Regions from separate parts of the Homo sapiens genome. Here region 1 is linked to region 2. Evidence: fine-mapped expression QTL. A gene starts in region 2. The other region holds a variant in brackets. All regions are shown on one strand. Distances are between the middles of the regions. Region 1 overlaps PYROXD1 (pyridine nucleotide-disulphide oxidoreductase domain 1). Region 2 holds the start of PYROXD1 (pyridine nucleotide-disulphide oxidoreductase domain 1).

Region 1 (8,000 bases), 23 kb before region 2:
TCAACAGATCTACATATATATTTAACTTTTCTGGGCCTCGGTTCATTTACCTGAAACGTAAACATAACACTACCTACTCTGTAACTATTGAGAGAATTAAACAGGTTAGCGTATAATAAGCACTTGGTTTCCTTCTACCTCCCTGTATGTGCATATGTACTTAATGCTGTCTTTTGTTTGCAGAAATAATATCATAATCATAGACATGAGTTTTAAGCATTTCTAGCAGAAGTGATAGATTTTTTTTTTTCAATCTCCTCTGTAAACAAGGTATTATAGATTTGATGAAGTGAAAGGCAGTTTATGGCTGGGGGTCAGAATAAACTGAGCACAGTAACAACTAGAGAACAGCTAATACAAGTGGCCGGAAAATTTGCATCTTGAACTGCATAAATTAGTATCCTTATTGCTTGTGTAAGCCAAGAAATGGGGCCTATAAGGTGCACTCAAAACAAGGCCATCTGTTTATTTTCGGATTTTTTCCCCTCTTTCAGATTATAACACATTAAGATATAATTTACCCTAGAGAATTAAAAATGTTAAAAAAAAAAAAACCCATAAACTCCAACTCTAAGAATTTGTGATAGTCTTGCCACAGAAATGACATAGAATGAGGCAGGTTAGAAACAAAAAGGCTGGAACCATTCTTACTGATGTCTCTACTGTCTGTAAGAACACAAAATGATGGTGCTGCCTCTTGAAATACTTTTAGCTCTTCTCCTACTTCACACTGCATAATCTGAATGAATAATGTCCCTAACTGTGGAGCTGGTCTTTAACAAAGATAAATGTTGCCTGGTTCCTTTATTTCAAACATCTACCTAGGTCTCTACCCCTCTGCACACCTCTGGTCACTGTCTTTATCTTCCTCTAGTATTTTTGTTCCACCGTTAGGAGGAGGTAGGTAAAGCTGTGAGGGTAGGAAAAAGTCTAGATCCAGTTGGGACTTGTTAAGGCTCAGGAAAGGTGTTTACTACAGGAATTTTTTTTTTTTTTTTTGAGACAGAGTTTTGCTCTTGTTGCCCAGGCTGGGGTGCAGTGGTGCGATCTCAGCTCACTGCAACCTCCGCCTCCCAGGTTCAAGGGATTCTTGTGCCTCAGCCTCCTGAATAGCTGGGATTACAGACGCACACCATCATGCTCAGCTAATTTTTTGTATTTTTAGTAAAGACGGGGTTTCATCATGTTGTTCAGGCTGGTCTCAAACTCCTAACTTCAGATGATACACCTGCCTCTCACCCTCCCAAAGTGCTGGGATTACAGGCGTGAGCCACTGCGCCCAGAACATTTTTTAGTAATGATTACCACAGGGACAGAATAGGATCATAAAGGAATAGAATGCTTTTCTATATAATTTACAATCTTAGTAGTTTTTTTAATCTAAAGTTGTGCTGTCCAACATCGTAGCCACATATATTTAAAGTTAATGAGAAGTAAGTAAAAATAATTCAGTTCCTCAGTCACATTAACCACATTTCAAGTGCTCATGTGACATACTGCTGGCTACCTGACTAGATGGTGAGGAATTAAACATTTCCATCATCACAGAAAGTTCTCCTGGACAGTGCTGATAAGCAGGTAAGAATGAAAAACAAAGTAATAGCCCATAATTTCTTTTAAAGTAAAAGATGTCTCAGTCTACCATTATAATGATAACTTACCAAACAGGGAAATATTCTAGTTTTTTTTTTAAATATATATAACAACTGTGCTAGCTTCCTACTTAAGCAGAAAAGTTGGAAAACCAGAAGTTGGATTTGTTGGTAACAACCGCTTTATTTTCAGACAGAATCTCTGATGAAAACATATAATTATATATGCTAGCTTACCTGCTGCCAGACTGGGCTCAGCTGCCAGGATGTAGTACAGATGTCACCGGCAGCATAGATATCAGGAAGGGATGTGTGCATATGATCATCCACTTTCAGGCCACCATCTTCTCCTAGATCAAACTAAACAACATTCCTCATAAGCGTTAAGTGTTAAGAAAAATGAAACGACTTTTTCCATTTTAAAGTAAAAGAACAAATTAAATTGTTACACTTTGCATGCTCATCTTTAATGAGAAAATGAAAAATATCAGCAAAGTTTAGACACCTGAGCTGAATTTCCATGGATCAAATTCCAACTAAGACTGATCCATAAAACTGTCAGAATTTCAACATGAAAAGTATCCAATAACCATGTGACTACCTTATCCATAACTACAAGAATATTCTTTTTTTTTTTTTGTAAGCTTCAAGTGCTGAAAAGCAAAAAATACAAGATGGTTTCTCTAAAAGAATCATTTTTGAGAAGTCACGGGAGGTGTCAGTCTCTTACCAACATTTAGATAAATAAATTGTACATTATAAACCATTACTGATGACGCTTATGCAAGGATATAACTATGTAAGGATTTTAAGCAGTAAAAAATACTGTAAATCAAGACAATGTTTTAACCAAACTGTTTCCAACCATGTTAAGTTACAGTTGTACACTAAAATAATAATTATTCATGTTTGAGAATTAGAGATCTTCACAAAAATACTTCAAATATATTCACAGCTGGACAAAAAAATTTCACCTTACACTGTTACCATGGAGAAAAGGTTCTACATTTGGTGTAACTCCTGTAGCACTGACAATGAAATCGCAGCCATATATCTTTTCATTGGTCAATTCCACATAGACAGGCCACATCTCTTTAAGAAAAAAAAACCAAAAAAACAGACTTTATTTGTAAATGGAACCATCACCACAGCAGTGTATGTGACTACAATGACTAGAAACAAAGAAAGAAAAAGAAAGGCAAGAGATAACTTTGTAACACACTCCTTAGCAATTATTATGAGGCATATTTGCTAAAGCAATTTTAATGCAATTAGCATCATCTCGTTTGGGTATAATTTTAAAACCATGGCATTTTAAATGTTTTTCCTTCAAATTTGGACACATAAATTTTGACAAAGTACATTTAAATTATTTCTAAATTATTTCTCTAAAAATCTTTTGTAATACTTTACACTCCACTTAAGTGTTTAGTTCAACTAGGTGTCTTCCCTCACTACTCATATTCAAATTCCCCTTTCCTATGGAAAAATTCAAAGAATTCAGAACAGTAGAATATTTCATATGCTAGTTAACTGAGTGTATTTCTTCAAATCATGGCAATTCTCAGAGGAGTTGTGGAACTGGAGTTAGGAGAGCTGCATCTTAGTCCCAAAAATATACATTTTCAATCTGATTTGGGTGAAATCATGTCACCTTTAAGAGCTCTAGGTTTTTGTCTTATTTTGATTTATAATATATTCTGATTGTTGGTCAAAACACTCAGCTCTATGTAAGATGTAATGCCCTATACGATTTAATTTACTAGAAAACAACAGACAGTGAAATGAAGTGAGTTAATGTTATTAAATTATGGTTTTATTTTTACTTTTCATGTTTAAATTTTATATGGAAATACGAAGTTATTTTTAATAGAACACAGCAGGATTAAATTGTTTTCCTTTTAATTAAGTGGTTATATATATTTTTTCTTATTTCATTACTTGCCTGTATCAGCTGTAACTGACTTATGGTCTCTTGGAAAAGTGAAGGACTTTTTCTTCAAAATTCTAAACTCATCCTGAAGGTAGATTTTCTTTACTTCACACATAGTTTCAAGGTGAATCTTATGAGAAAACTAAAATTAAGAAAATACTGGTTAGCATAATACTTACAGAAAGAATAACCCGGGTTACTAATGATGAAGAAAAAACGTATACTTGTAGAAATGTATAGAAAACATAATTCTTATAATATAAATGAAACCACATTGGGTGCCCTAAAATAAGTCTCTCTATGCACATGAAAGGAGTGAACAAAAATTCATTCAGTAACTTAAGAGATCTGGTAGCTGCATTAGCAGATAGCATCGAGGGAATGCTTTTTAGCCTAGGCCTCATTGATAATTACAAATGCATTTTTTAAAAATTACAGTAGTTGTTGGGCACAGTGGCTCACGCCTGTAATCCCAGCACTCTGGGAGGCCGAGGCGCAGGTGGATCACCTGAGGTCAGGAGTTCAAGACTAGCCTGGCCTATATGGTGAAACCCTGTCTCTACTAAAATTAAAAAATTAGCCAGGCCTGGTGGTGTGCGCCTGTAGTCCCAGCTACTCGGGAGGCTGAGGCAGGAGACTCGCTTGAACCCGGGAGGCAGAGGTTGCAGCGAGCCAAGATCATACCACAGCACTCCAGCTTGGGTGACAGAGCGAGACTCTGTCTCAAAAAAAATAAATAAATAAAATAAATAAATAAATAAATAAATAAAAATTTAAAAAATGACAACAGTTATGGACTATAAAATTTTCTTCAGGTCAGTTCTGACTTA[C/T]TGTCGTATCCCTGAACATTAATAAAGTCCCACGTAGGTAGTAAATACTCAATAAATGCTTATTGAATTAAACTGTTGAAGTTCTCAGGTTAAAAATATAATATTAGGATCTGAAGGTGCAAGAAGAAGGGACTTTGTGTAATTTCCATCACAAAAATTAGATACACCGTGCAGCCAGCTCCCCTCCTACCTACTGAAAGCCAAAAACCAATGCTCTAAAGAAATCACACAAAGTAACGAAGGACTGCATGCATGCTTCTTACAGCATTTAGATTTCACAGCCCTTTAACAACTATTAAAAAATCAAAATATCTAACAAAATGAGGAAAAGCAAATCATCTCCTTATCCAATTAGGGTATTAAGTGTGTATTTCCAATCCATCTAATAACTTTTGTAAGTTTACTGCATGCATCTGAAGTGACCTTTGAGAAAAGATTAATTTAAAATAGGACAGGAGTATTCACTGTAGTCTGGGTATAGAAAGCTCTATCCCTGATCTGAGGATATAGGAAAAAACAAACTCAGTTTCTCCTACTATAGTCTCACAACACAGAATACTTCTGTGACCAAATGTGTGTGGGGTGTTTTCTACACACTAAGCAAGCAATTAATTCTGCACAGGACACCATCTGGCTGTCCTCTAATTCAATTCAGTTCTGATGTTATTATCTACCTGGAGATAGCATCAGGTCCCACATGTTGAGGGATCAATCTCACAAGACTGTCTTCCACTTCCAATACCAATTGCATGCCCCGGGTGTTTTACCAGTTGGTCTGACTAACCAACCATAAATCAAGGGGCTCCCACGAGCCCCTTTCTTAGGTTCAATTAATTTATTAGAATATCTCACAGAATTTGGGGAAACACTTTACTTACATTTACTGGTTTATTATCAAGGATGTCACGAAGAAACAGATGAAGAAATACATAAGGCAAAGCATATAAGAAGGGGCATGAAGCTTCTATGCCCTCTCCAGATAGACCACCCTCTAGCAACTTCCACATGTTCAGCTATCCAGAAGCTCTCCAAACCCAGTCCTTTTGGGTTTTCATGGAAACTGTGTTATGTAGGTGACTGATTAAATTACTGGCTGCTAGTGATTGGCTTAACCTTCAACCTCTTTCCCTTCCTGTAGGTTGGAAAGTCTAAACTCTAATCATGTCTTGGTCTTTCCTGTGACCAGTCCCCATTCTGAAGCCACCTAGGGGCTAACCAGTCAACTCGTTAGCATACAAAAGGACACATCACTTTGGAGATGCCAAAAATTTTAGGAGTTGTGTGCCAGAAAACTGCAGACACAACATTTTATTGTGCTTCACTACTGTTTTGCAGATAGTGTGTTTTTTACAAATTGAAGGTTTGTGACAAACCCACATCAAGCAAGTCTTATCAGTGCCATTTTTCCAATAGCATGTGCTCACTTTGTGTCTCTGTCACATTTTGGTAATTCTTGCAATATTTCAGTTTTCATCATTATTAGATCTTTTATGGTGATCTGTGATTAGTAATCTTTGATGTACTACTGTAATTGTCTTGGGGTGTCATGAACCACACCCATCTAACACAGTGAACTTAATCGATAAATGTTCTGTGTTCTGACTGCTCCATCAACCAGCTGTTGTCCTATGTCTCTCCCTCTCCTTGGGCCTCCTTATTCCCGGAGACACAAGAATATTGAAACCAGGGCAATCAGTTACTCTGTAGTGGCCTCTAAGTGTTCAAGTGAAAGTAAGGATCACACATCTCTCACTTTAAATCAAAAGGTAGCAATGATTATTAGGGTTATTGAGGAAGGCACATGGAAAGCCAGGCCTCTTGCCCTGAACAGATGGCCAAATTGTGAATGCAAAGGAAACATTCTTGAAGTAAATCTAAAGTGGTATTCCAATGAACACATGAATGATGAGAAAGCGAAACAGTCTTCTTGCTGACATGGAGAAAGTTTTAGTGGTGTGGAGAGAAGATCAAATCAGCCACAACATTCCCTTAGGCCAAAGCCTAACCCAGAGTAAGCCCCTAACTGTTTTCAATTCTGTAAAGGCTGAGAGAAGTGAGGAAGCTGCAGAAGAAAAGGCTGAAGCTAGTAGAGGTTGGTTCATGATGTTTAAGTAAAGAAGCCATCTCTACAACAAAAATATACAATTGATAACTGATGAATGTGGCTACACTAAACAGTAGATTTTCAGTGTACATGAAACAGCCTTCCAGTGGAAAAAGATGCTATCTAGGACCTTCACAACTATAGAGGAGAAGTCAATGCCTGGCTTCAAAGGACAGGCAGACTCTCCTGTTAGGGGATAATGTAACTGGTGACTTGAAGTTGAAGCCAATGCCTATTTACCACTGTGAAAGTTCTAGGGCCCTTAAGAACTATACTACATCTACCCTGCCTGTCCTCTGTAAATGGAACAACAAAGCCTGGATGACAGCATTATATGGTTTGGGCCTGGTTCTCCACCCAAATCTCATATCAAATTGTAATCCCCAATGTTGGAGGTACGGCCTGGTGGGAGGTGACTGGATCATGGGGACAGTTTCTAATAGTTTAGCACCATCCTTAGTGCTGTTTTCATGTTAGAGTTCTCATGAGATCTGGTTGTTTAAAGGTGTGTGGCACCAGCCCCCTTCTCTCTCTTCCTCTTGCTCTGGCCATGTAAGAAGTGCATAATTCCCCTTCCCCCGTGATTGAAAGTTTCCTGAGGCCTCCCCAGTCATGCTTCCTGTACAGCCCGTGGGACCATGAGCCAATTAAACCTCTTTTCTTTATAAATATTACCTACTCTCAGGTATTTCTTTATATACTGTGAGAATGGAGTAATACACAGCACATCTGTTTACATAGTTTACTGAATATTTGAAGCCCACCATTGAGACCTACTGCTCAGAAAAAAAAAAAAAAAGATTCATTTCAAAATACTACACTCATTGACAAGGCATTTGGTCACCCAAGAACTCAGACAGAGATGCACAAGGAGATGAATGTTGTTTTCATGCCTGCTAATACAATATCCATTCTGCAGCCCATGGATCCAGGAGTAATTCTTACTTTCAAGTCTTATTAAAGAAATGCATTTCATAAGGCTATAGCTGCCACAGATAGTGATGCATCTGATGGATCTGGGAAAAGTACATTGAAAACCTTCTGGAAAGAATTCACCATTCTAGATGTTATTAAGAACATTCATGATTCAAGGGAGTAAGTCAAAATATCAACATTAACAAAAGCTTGAAAGAAGTTTACTCCAACCTTCATGGATGACTTTGAGGGATTCAAGATTTCAATGGAGAAAGGCAGATATGGTGGAAATAACAAAAGAACTGTAATTAGAAATGAATCCTGAAGATGAGACTACATTGCTGCAATCTCATGATAAAATTTGAAAAGATGAGTTGTTGTTTCTCATGGATGAGCAAAGAACGTAGTTATCTGAGATGGAGTTTACTTCTGGTGAGGATGCTGTGAGTATTGCTGAAATGATGAAGGATTTAAAATATTACATATACTTGGTAAAGCAGTAGCAGAGTTTGAGAGAATTGACTTTTGAAAGAACTTCTACTCTGGGCAAAATGCTATAAAACAGCTTCGCACGCTACAGAGAAGTCTTTCACGAGAGGAAGAGTCAATTGATGGGGCAAACTTGT
Region 2 (8,490 bases):
GGGAGGCTATTAGCAGCCATTGACATTGAAAACCCCAACAACCCTCACTACCACTGCAGACATCCAGAGTTGGATGCTGAGGATCCCTGCAATCTTCAACAACAATTAACTCAGCTGACGGAGCTGCACAGACTACAAAGTGGGCACCCTCACTGGTGCCAGAACTGCTACATCCCATCTAGCAAGCAGCCCTCCCCATAGGGGAAGGTCTTTCCACAGCAAAACTAGCCCATACTTCTGAAAACAGCAAGTGTGTCATCAAATGTGCAAACATCAACATAAGGCAGTAAGAAACATGATAAACCAAGAAGATATGCCACCAAAAGAACACAAATGTCAGAACTGCCTAAGAATTCAAAATAATTGTTTAAAGAAGCTGAAGGAACTTCAAGAAGTTACAAACAATTCAATTAAATCAGAAAAACAATAAGCAACCAAAACAAAAAATTTAAAAAGTTATTTAAAAACTAAAGCAGAAATTCTGACGATGAAAGATGCAATGAATGAAACAAAAAAAAATGCAACAGACTATGTCAACAAGAGAACTGATCACACAGAAGAAAACATCTGTGAATCTGAAGACAGATTATTTGAAAATATACAGTCAGAAGGGAAGAAGAAGAAAAAAGAATGAAAAAGAACATAGAAGTAGGGAATTAAAGGATGGCATCAAATGAGCAAATCTTTGAATTATAGGCGTTATAGAAGGAGACAAGAAAGACAAAGGAGTAGAACATGTATTTAAAGAAATAACAACAGAAAACTTTCCAGGCTGGGCGCGGTGGCTCACACCTGTAATCCCAGCAATTTGGGAGGCCGAGGTGGATGGATCACGAGGTCAGGAGTTCCAGACCAGCCTGGCCAATATGGTGAAACCCCGTCTCTACTAAAAAATACAAAAAATTAGCTGGGCATGGTTGCGGGCGCCTGTAGTCCTAGCTACTTGGGAGGCTGAGGCAGGAGAATGGCGTGAACCCAGGAGGCGGAGCTTGCAGTGAGCCAAGATCGTGCCACTGCACTCCAGTCTGGGCAACAGGGTGAGACTCCATCTCAAAAAAAAGCAATCAATTCACCATAATCAAGTGGGATTTATTCAGGGATGCAAAGATGGCTTAAAATATGCAAATCGGTAAATGTGATATACCACATTAACAGAACAAAGGACAAAAATCATGACCATCTCTACAGATATAGAAAAAATATTCAACAAAATTAAACGTCTTTTCATAATAAAAACCCAACAATTAGGTATGGAAGGAAAGTACCACAACAAAAAAATGGTCATATACAAGCCTATAGCTAATAATATATTGAATGGAGAAAAGCTGAAAGCTTTTCCAAGATCAAGAACAACACAAGGATGCCCACTCTCACAACTTCTATTCAACACAGTACTAAAGTCCTAGCTAGAGCAATTAAATTAGGTGACAGAAAGAAATAAAAGGCATCCAAATTGGAAAGATTTTAAATAGCTTGACTTAGCCATTCCACAATGTATACATGTATCAAAACATCATGTTGTACAGCATATAACTGTACTTGTCAATTTTTAAGAAAGAAAAAAATACACAATTACCCTAACTGCTATGCAAGTTATTGCAATTTTTTCAAATTAATATTAACAAGTTATACAAAGGTTCTTACCTGCTTGAAATTTGTAACTGCTTTAATAACAGGAGAAGCTGTTACCAAGAGAATATCTTCCGATGGAAAGTGAGTAGCCAACTTATTTTTAAAAAGAGAGAAAAAAAATTAGGACAAATTACTTTAAGTACTGGTATATATGGTTTGGGGTTGAGAATAATGCAATTTTAATAATGTAATTAATCTAGAAAATTAAAAACCCACTGTTCCTCATCTAAAGGTCTCCATTATCCTTGGTCTTGATGGGGCAATGGTGAATAATATTAAACTCTGATACTGAGAAAATAATATTTACAGTAAACACTAACAAAGAACTCCTGAACAAGAAAAGTGATATAAAGAAATATCCTTTATTTACTTCAACTATTTTTTATACCAATTTAGAGTTATAATGCAGAGGATGAGAATAAACTATCTTCCTAATTACCAGTTAAACCAACTTCTATTTATCTTAAAATAATATTTCATTTGTCTTCAATGGGATGAAATTAAAGCAAACCCTCAATATTAAACACTTAGAATATTGGTCTAACTTTCCCCAGGTGCTCTGGCACTCCTATTCTGCCTCTTCCAGTCAGTACATATTGTGGGACGATAAAGCCATTTTAATAATTGCTTCCACAAAATTTAGAGGTATAACTTGTTAATGTTTCATTATTTTCCTTTAGCTACAACCTCGGTCTTCTTCACTCTGTACCTGAAAGCATTTTCTTATCTCAAAGTCTGGTTCCTCGACACCACCACCCTCAATAATCTGGCTTCTATTCCTACTCCATCACTAAAACAGCATGTTTGAGGGATCTATGAATCCTTAAAATCCAAGGGATTATTTATTTTTTTTTTAATGGAGATGGGATCTTGCCATGTTGCCCAGTCTGGCTTCAAACTCCTGGACTCATGCAATCCTCCCACCTTGGCCTCCCAAAGTTCTAAGATTACAAGTGTGAGCTATCGTGCCCAACACCCATGCGATTCTTCTCAGTCTCATTTTATTTGAACTTTCTATATTTGACAATATCATTACTCTCTCCATCTTTCTTTCCTCTGTATATTCTGTAATTTATATCTCTGCTGTTTCCATTGCTAGATGAGGTCCTCAAAACTTCTTTATACTACTGAAATCACCTTCGAATTGGCTCTCCAGTTTCACGTATAAACCAGCTGCCTCTGCCACAAATACATTGTAACTAATCATCTTTCAAGCCTTTTCATATGATCAAGTTACTCCACTGCTCAAAAACATTTGACTACTTGTAAATTCTTGTTAAGTTCTCAGCATGCTAAGACTCCTTATGATCTATGCTTTAAGCTTTACTGCTCCCTGATGATCCATGCTTTTCCACTGGAGATGACATTCTTTTCTTGAATACTTGGTAAACTTTCACTCATTCTTTCATAATGAGATTTTAAAAATACCTTCTTTGATTAAAAAAATTTCCTCTTCCCTAATTCACTCCCTACATACTCCACAGGCACCTCTAAGATAACCGTTGATATCTCTTGCATAGACATACAATATTGTAATATTGTCTCTTCCAGCAGGCTGTGAGTCCCCAGCATGGTATATACCATGCTGTTCATAGTTGAACACTCAGCCCTTAATACGGTGCCTGCATCATATATGTTTACTTAGTGAATAAACGGAAAATACGCATCCAACGATGGAAACACTTGAGTTTCTTCCACTATTTCTTATGACTTCAGTGATTGCTCATGTTTACTTTATATCAACAAAATAATGTAGAACTTTTTGGAATACACACATGTATCTGAATATATATGGTCTGGCTATTCAGTATAATCAAGAAAGCAAGCCCTACATGCATTTAATCCTTCGCTGATTATTTTACAAAACTTTACTAGAAATAAAGTTTCTTCTATCTTGGGAGTTCGAAGTATAGAAAACTTACATATGGGATTCTTTATTAATTAGTTAAGATGCACTAAAGACTTGGCAACTATCTGGAAACTAAACTCAATCACCTACGATAATTAACAAAGGGGGCTGAGGGCCGGGTGCTGTGGCTCAGGCCTGTAATGCCAGCACTTCGGTAGGCGGAAGCGGGCAGACTGCTTGAGCCCAGGAGTTCGAGACCAGCCTGGCCAACATGGTGAAAGCCCGTCTCTACTAAAAATACAAACATTAGCGGGGCGTGGTGGCTGGCGCCTGTAATCCCAGCTACAGGCTGACGCAACAGAAGAATCGCTTGAACCCGGGAGGCAAAGCTTGCATTAAGCCAAGATCGCACCACTGCCCTCCAGTCTGGGCGACAGAGTGAGACTCCGTCTCAAAGAAAAAGAAAAAAAAATAAAAAGAAAGGGGGCTGAATTTTTTGTCTAAATACAAAGTCCTCATGTCTGCTCTGACATTACAAGGATCTGAGCACGGATCAGCCAGCTTTGGTTTCTCGGCTATAATTTGCCTCCCACTCCTCCCTGCGCCTAAGAGAAAGCTAGTGAGGTCATCTGAGGACCACCAAGCAGTTTCTAAAATCTGGGAGCAATAAGTGCGGAAAAGGGCGCAGCAAAAAAGGAACCCGGAAGAAGAAAAAGGGAGGGGGTGGGAGGAAGGCCTCCAGTGCTATCCCCTTTGGGGTCGGGGAAAGAGGCGGAACCGCCTGAGCACCGCCCTACCTGCTCCGCACAAGTGACGCCCGCGATGCCGCCGCCGACCACCACGAACTTCCCTGCCGTCGGGGGAGGGCGCGCTGCCTCCATGCTGCCGGACTCCCAGTGGTTTACTGAATATCGCGGCGGAGCAACGGGACTCTGGACTCCAGGAGAGGAAGCAGCCGCGAGGCGGTCACTTCCGGTGCCTTACCAGATAATCCGACCTACGGGTGCTCGGGAGCTCACACTACTCATCTCGAGTACCTGCTGCCGGCTGCGTTTCGGAAGCAACGAATTGTCTCGTGGTGTTCAGAGCTTTGCGTTACTATTACTACACCTGAATGTAGTTATTCCATGAAAATTTGACAAAGAGAAAACCAAAAAATTAAAAATAAAAAAGTAAAGAAGATGGGTTGCCCAAAGAAGTTTGATAAATTACATATCTAAAGATAGACCAGTGTTCTCACGGGACAAAACATTCATATAATAAATGAATTGGTGTGAAGTTCTCATTATTTGTTTCTGCGAGAAATTAGAGGCACAGATTTTATGCTCTTATGAGTAGAAGGAGCCTTCGGGAACATCCTGACCCCACTCCTGTCATTTTTGTAGATGAAGAAACTTGAGTCTTCTGAAAACCACTTGATTGCCACCGTTCACCTAACAATCCAAGATTTTTGTTTGTGGAAGCACAAAAATTCTTCATGACAAGGCAAAACAATACTACTGAATTGTTCTCTAAAAAATCATCCTTTTCATTTACAACTTTGACCTCAGCTAAAGTTTCCAGGAAGAATGTACAGTTGCTTTCCATTTTGTCAAAACAAATGAACATTTCTTAAATTTCCAGTCAATAGCAGCATGTGTGAGGGTTGAATGAAATATTCCCAGTCTCGGTTTTACTGTGAATTTTTTTCGTGGTCAATTGTTTTTAAGAAATTGCTAAATCATTTTTAACTGTTTTTACTATATTATTCACTATTCATATTATTTTACTATTTACTATTACCTTTGCTGTCTCATATAACTTTCCCTAGGAGTTGTTTTGTAATGGTAAGGTATTATCTCTCAAATGGTTCACTCTAAAACTGGTAATTACCCGAGTCCCTTTAATTCTTTAAACACTGAGAATAACCATTATATATTAACAGGAAAGCCTACCACGTATCTAATTACAGGCATTTACTGATACCTGTAAAAATCATTGTTCTTTGATTTACCAAGTTAAATGGTAAGCGGTTTAATAAACGTGTCTAATTCCTGTTACTAGTATAGCAACCAAACAAAGCATTCATTTCTAGGAGGAGGAAATACATTCCTTAAGCCCATTTAGATCTCATCTTGCTTCAGCTTATTTTCACATTATCTCACTCACACTGTGTTCCATTCAGGCCACACTACACTTCCAGATCCCAGGATATGCCATTTTCTTTCTGAGCATTTGCACATATCTTTTTCCCAACTACTTTTCCCTGGCTAACTCATCAACCTTTGGTTTCATCAAGCCATTGCTTCCCCTTTAAGATACTTTATCTAACATCCTCAAGACAGCTAGGTGTCCTCTCCGTGTGTTCTTATAGCACTTTGTCATCCTCTAAATTTAGACTTATCCCACTTTATTGTAAATTCTTACTGCCTGACCCCACCACCACCATAAACTGCTTACATAATCTCAGGGATTATTTTTGTCTCCCTTTGTATCTCCAATGTTTAGTAGGGAGTATGTATTCAACAAAAATGTGCTCAACGAAATAGGAAGTTGGTGGAGCATGAAACTCCCCTGAAGTCCTTCTAAAGATTTTTAGATTCATTGTCCAGGGTCAGGATCCTCTTGTATATTGTGACAGGGGTTTCCTCTTTATGGAAGTCGGAAGGAAGAATGGAGTGGAATTTAAGCTCCCAGGGGAAACGGAAGGAGATCATCGTCTGTGGGAGGGGAAGCAAAGTAGTAGGAGGCTCCTCAAATGTAAAGGGGTAATGACTCCACACTCTCCTTTTTTCTTCCCCTTGTGAAGGCTGGCTTTTTTGTCAAAGGTGATGTAGGGATAAGACCTAGCTGCCTGCCACACTGGCATGAATATCCAACTTTTAGAAATGTCTAAGGGTTAAAGAACTTTCAGTGCATCTCACCTTAATGTTGATTAAATTAGATACATATACTGGATGTAAAGTGGGTTAAAAGTAAGATGTAGGTAACTTGAAACATGTTATCCACAGGGAGGGCAGCAATAGGTACAGGTTAGGAGAAAGGGCAACTGCAAAGAAAACTGGGCACCTAGAAATAAGGGAGGCCCAATGCCAGGAAGCAGCAGAGAAGCAGAAAAGACAGAACTTCAGCTCCCCTTTAGCTCTGGTCAGCAAGCTTAGGAGTGACCTGGTGACTGTTTCTGAGGAGTCAAAGAAATACCAGTGTATTGCTAAATATTATGGTGTATGTTTATGGGTGGAAAAGAAAAGCAGGACTTGGCAAAGAAAGGTTCAGAGAAGAAGTGGAATTTATATTGAATCTCAAAGGCCCATAGCATTTGGATAGGTTCAGAAGAAGATGTGGCAAGTCATGTGGGAAATATCCCAAGAACCAAAGGCTTAGCAGCAGGAATGAGCATGGGAAATACAGGAGATGGTAAAAGGGAAGAAAGAAAGAAAAGTGGTTGGGGAGTTCAAGATTCATGTGGAAAAACTGAAGGAGATAAAGCTATCTTCTTCTATTTCTCTCCATAATGTTGTTACATCTGATTCCCATACCCACCTAATCTCTTGAAGGCCATCCCCAACTTTCAAACTACCATCAAAATCTAGTCTTCCATTCTTCTTCAAGTTGATATCAGAAATGCCTAGAATAGGAGTATTGAGGTTAATTTTCAACTGCAAAAATTGGGAATGAATAATGACATTTCATAGTTGGTGATTAATAGCTTTTGAGTCAGATGACCTAGGTTCAAATGTGGCACCAGCATTTCTTTGTTGTGTGACCATTCAGTGAGTTATTTACCTCATCTGAACCCTAGTTTCCTCATTGGCAAGACGGGTATAAGATCTACTTTGTAGAGTTGTTTTGATGCATGTGTGAGGCAACATATTTAAACTTCCTAGCATAGTGCGTGCCTCTTAGTAGGATTAATGGTTAAGTTGCCTGCCTGTGCCCTGTTGAATAGACTATGTTTCTCTGTCTAAAGGATTTTATCTATGATCATAACCTTAACAAGCCTATTATGCTTTTAACTCCCAAATGTCTATCTCTCATGCAATCTACTCTGAATCTTCAAGCCTGAAATTTCTGAAACATCTTGGATATCTTCTCATTTTTATCTTGGTTTTTGCCAATTCGCTGTAAGTACAGCCTGGATTCATCTTGCACTCGAAACCTCTTCTTTGTTTTGTTAGTTCATATAACTGATTTACTGAACAAGCTGGACTTTATAGGGAAGAAATTAAAGCAAACATTTTTATTTCTCAACGCTTTTCCTGTGAATGTATTTTTCTCCTCTAAATTCTTATTAATTTAGCTTATCTGATCATTCTCAGGTAATAAAAAGTCTGGTACTACCTATTATCAAAACTCCAGACACGCATCCAATTAAAGCCTCACCTAACTACAGGCAACGCAAATTGATTTCTTGTTGCTTTTTTGCTCCAGCTCTTCTCCTAACTAAGAGCTGATGTTTTCAGGGGCTTTAAGATTGGAGGGTGGGTAAGGAGTAAGGAGAGGAAAGAGCCTCACTGTTGTTCCTGTATGAGCATATATATGCAAACCTACCCCCAAAGGCTGAGAGAGCTGAGAGGCCAAAGAAAAACTGACAAATCCAGTTTCTCAGAAAGAGGTATTTAATAGGGACTTACACACAGAAATGATGATTCTGTTACAGTGCATCCCCACACCTGCCCTCCAGAAATTATGTAAGCTTTTAGGATAAAAGATGTACAGCTGATCATGTCTCAGACTTTCTTGCAAAACTCATGAACACTGGGGAGTCTAGATAAGAATCTTAATGAGAGAATTATCTAAGTTACAAGCTTTGTTTCTTTTGAAGGGTTATCTATGCTATGGGCATTGTTTAAGGACCTTGCTGCAGAACACCTTAGTATGCAGGAATCCAACATCAGTCATCATGGCCGTGGTGTCATTCTTGCCATACCGCAGGCTGTCTTCCTATATCTATGAATCAGTGGTGTGGTACAACTGTGAATCTGTGAGAGCTGATTGTTAAAATTTTAGGATTTGTGTGAGCTGATTGT

Evidence for each region. PIP is the estimated chance that this variant, and not a neighbour inherited with it, causes the effect.
Region 1: its variant is fine-mapped to the expression of PYROXD1 in whole blood (INTERVAL, PIP 0.98).

Annotation. Positions count from the first base shown.
Region 1 is chr12:21,456,692-21,464,691 of GRCh38, reverse strand. It overlaps PYROXD1 (pyridine nucleotide-disulphide oxidoreductase domain 1), which reads right to left. Exons shown (of 12, transcript NM_024854.5): 8 at 3,538-3,667; 9 at 2,572-2,684; 10 at 1,830-1,952. Among named protein-coding and RNA genes, the nearest start is that of PYROXD1, 23 kb to the right of the region's middle. The variant C/T (reference allele first, on the strand shown) is at 4,356.
Region 2 is chr12:21,433,603-21,442,092 of GRCh38, reverse strand. PYROXD1 (pyridine nucleotide-disulphide oxidoreductase domain 1) reads right to left here and starts at 4,438. Exons shown (of 12, transcript NM_024854.5): 1 at 4,279-4,438; 2 at 1,645-1,725. The coding sequence starts at 4,362. RefSeq lists enhancers at 4,290-4,479, 4,530-4,609.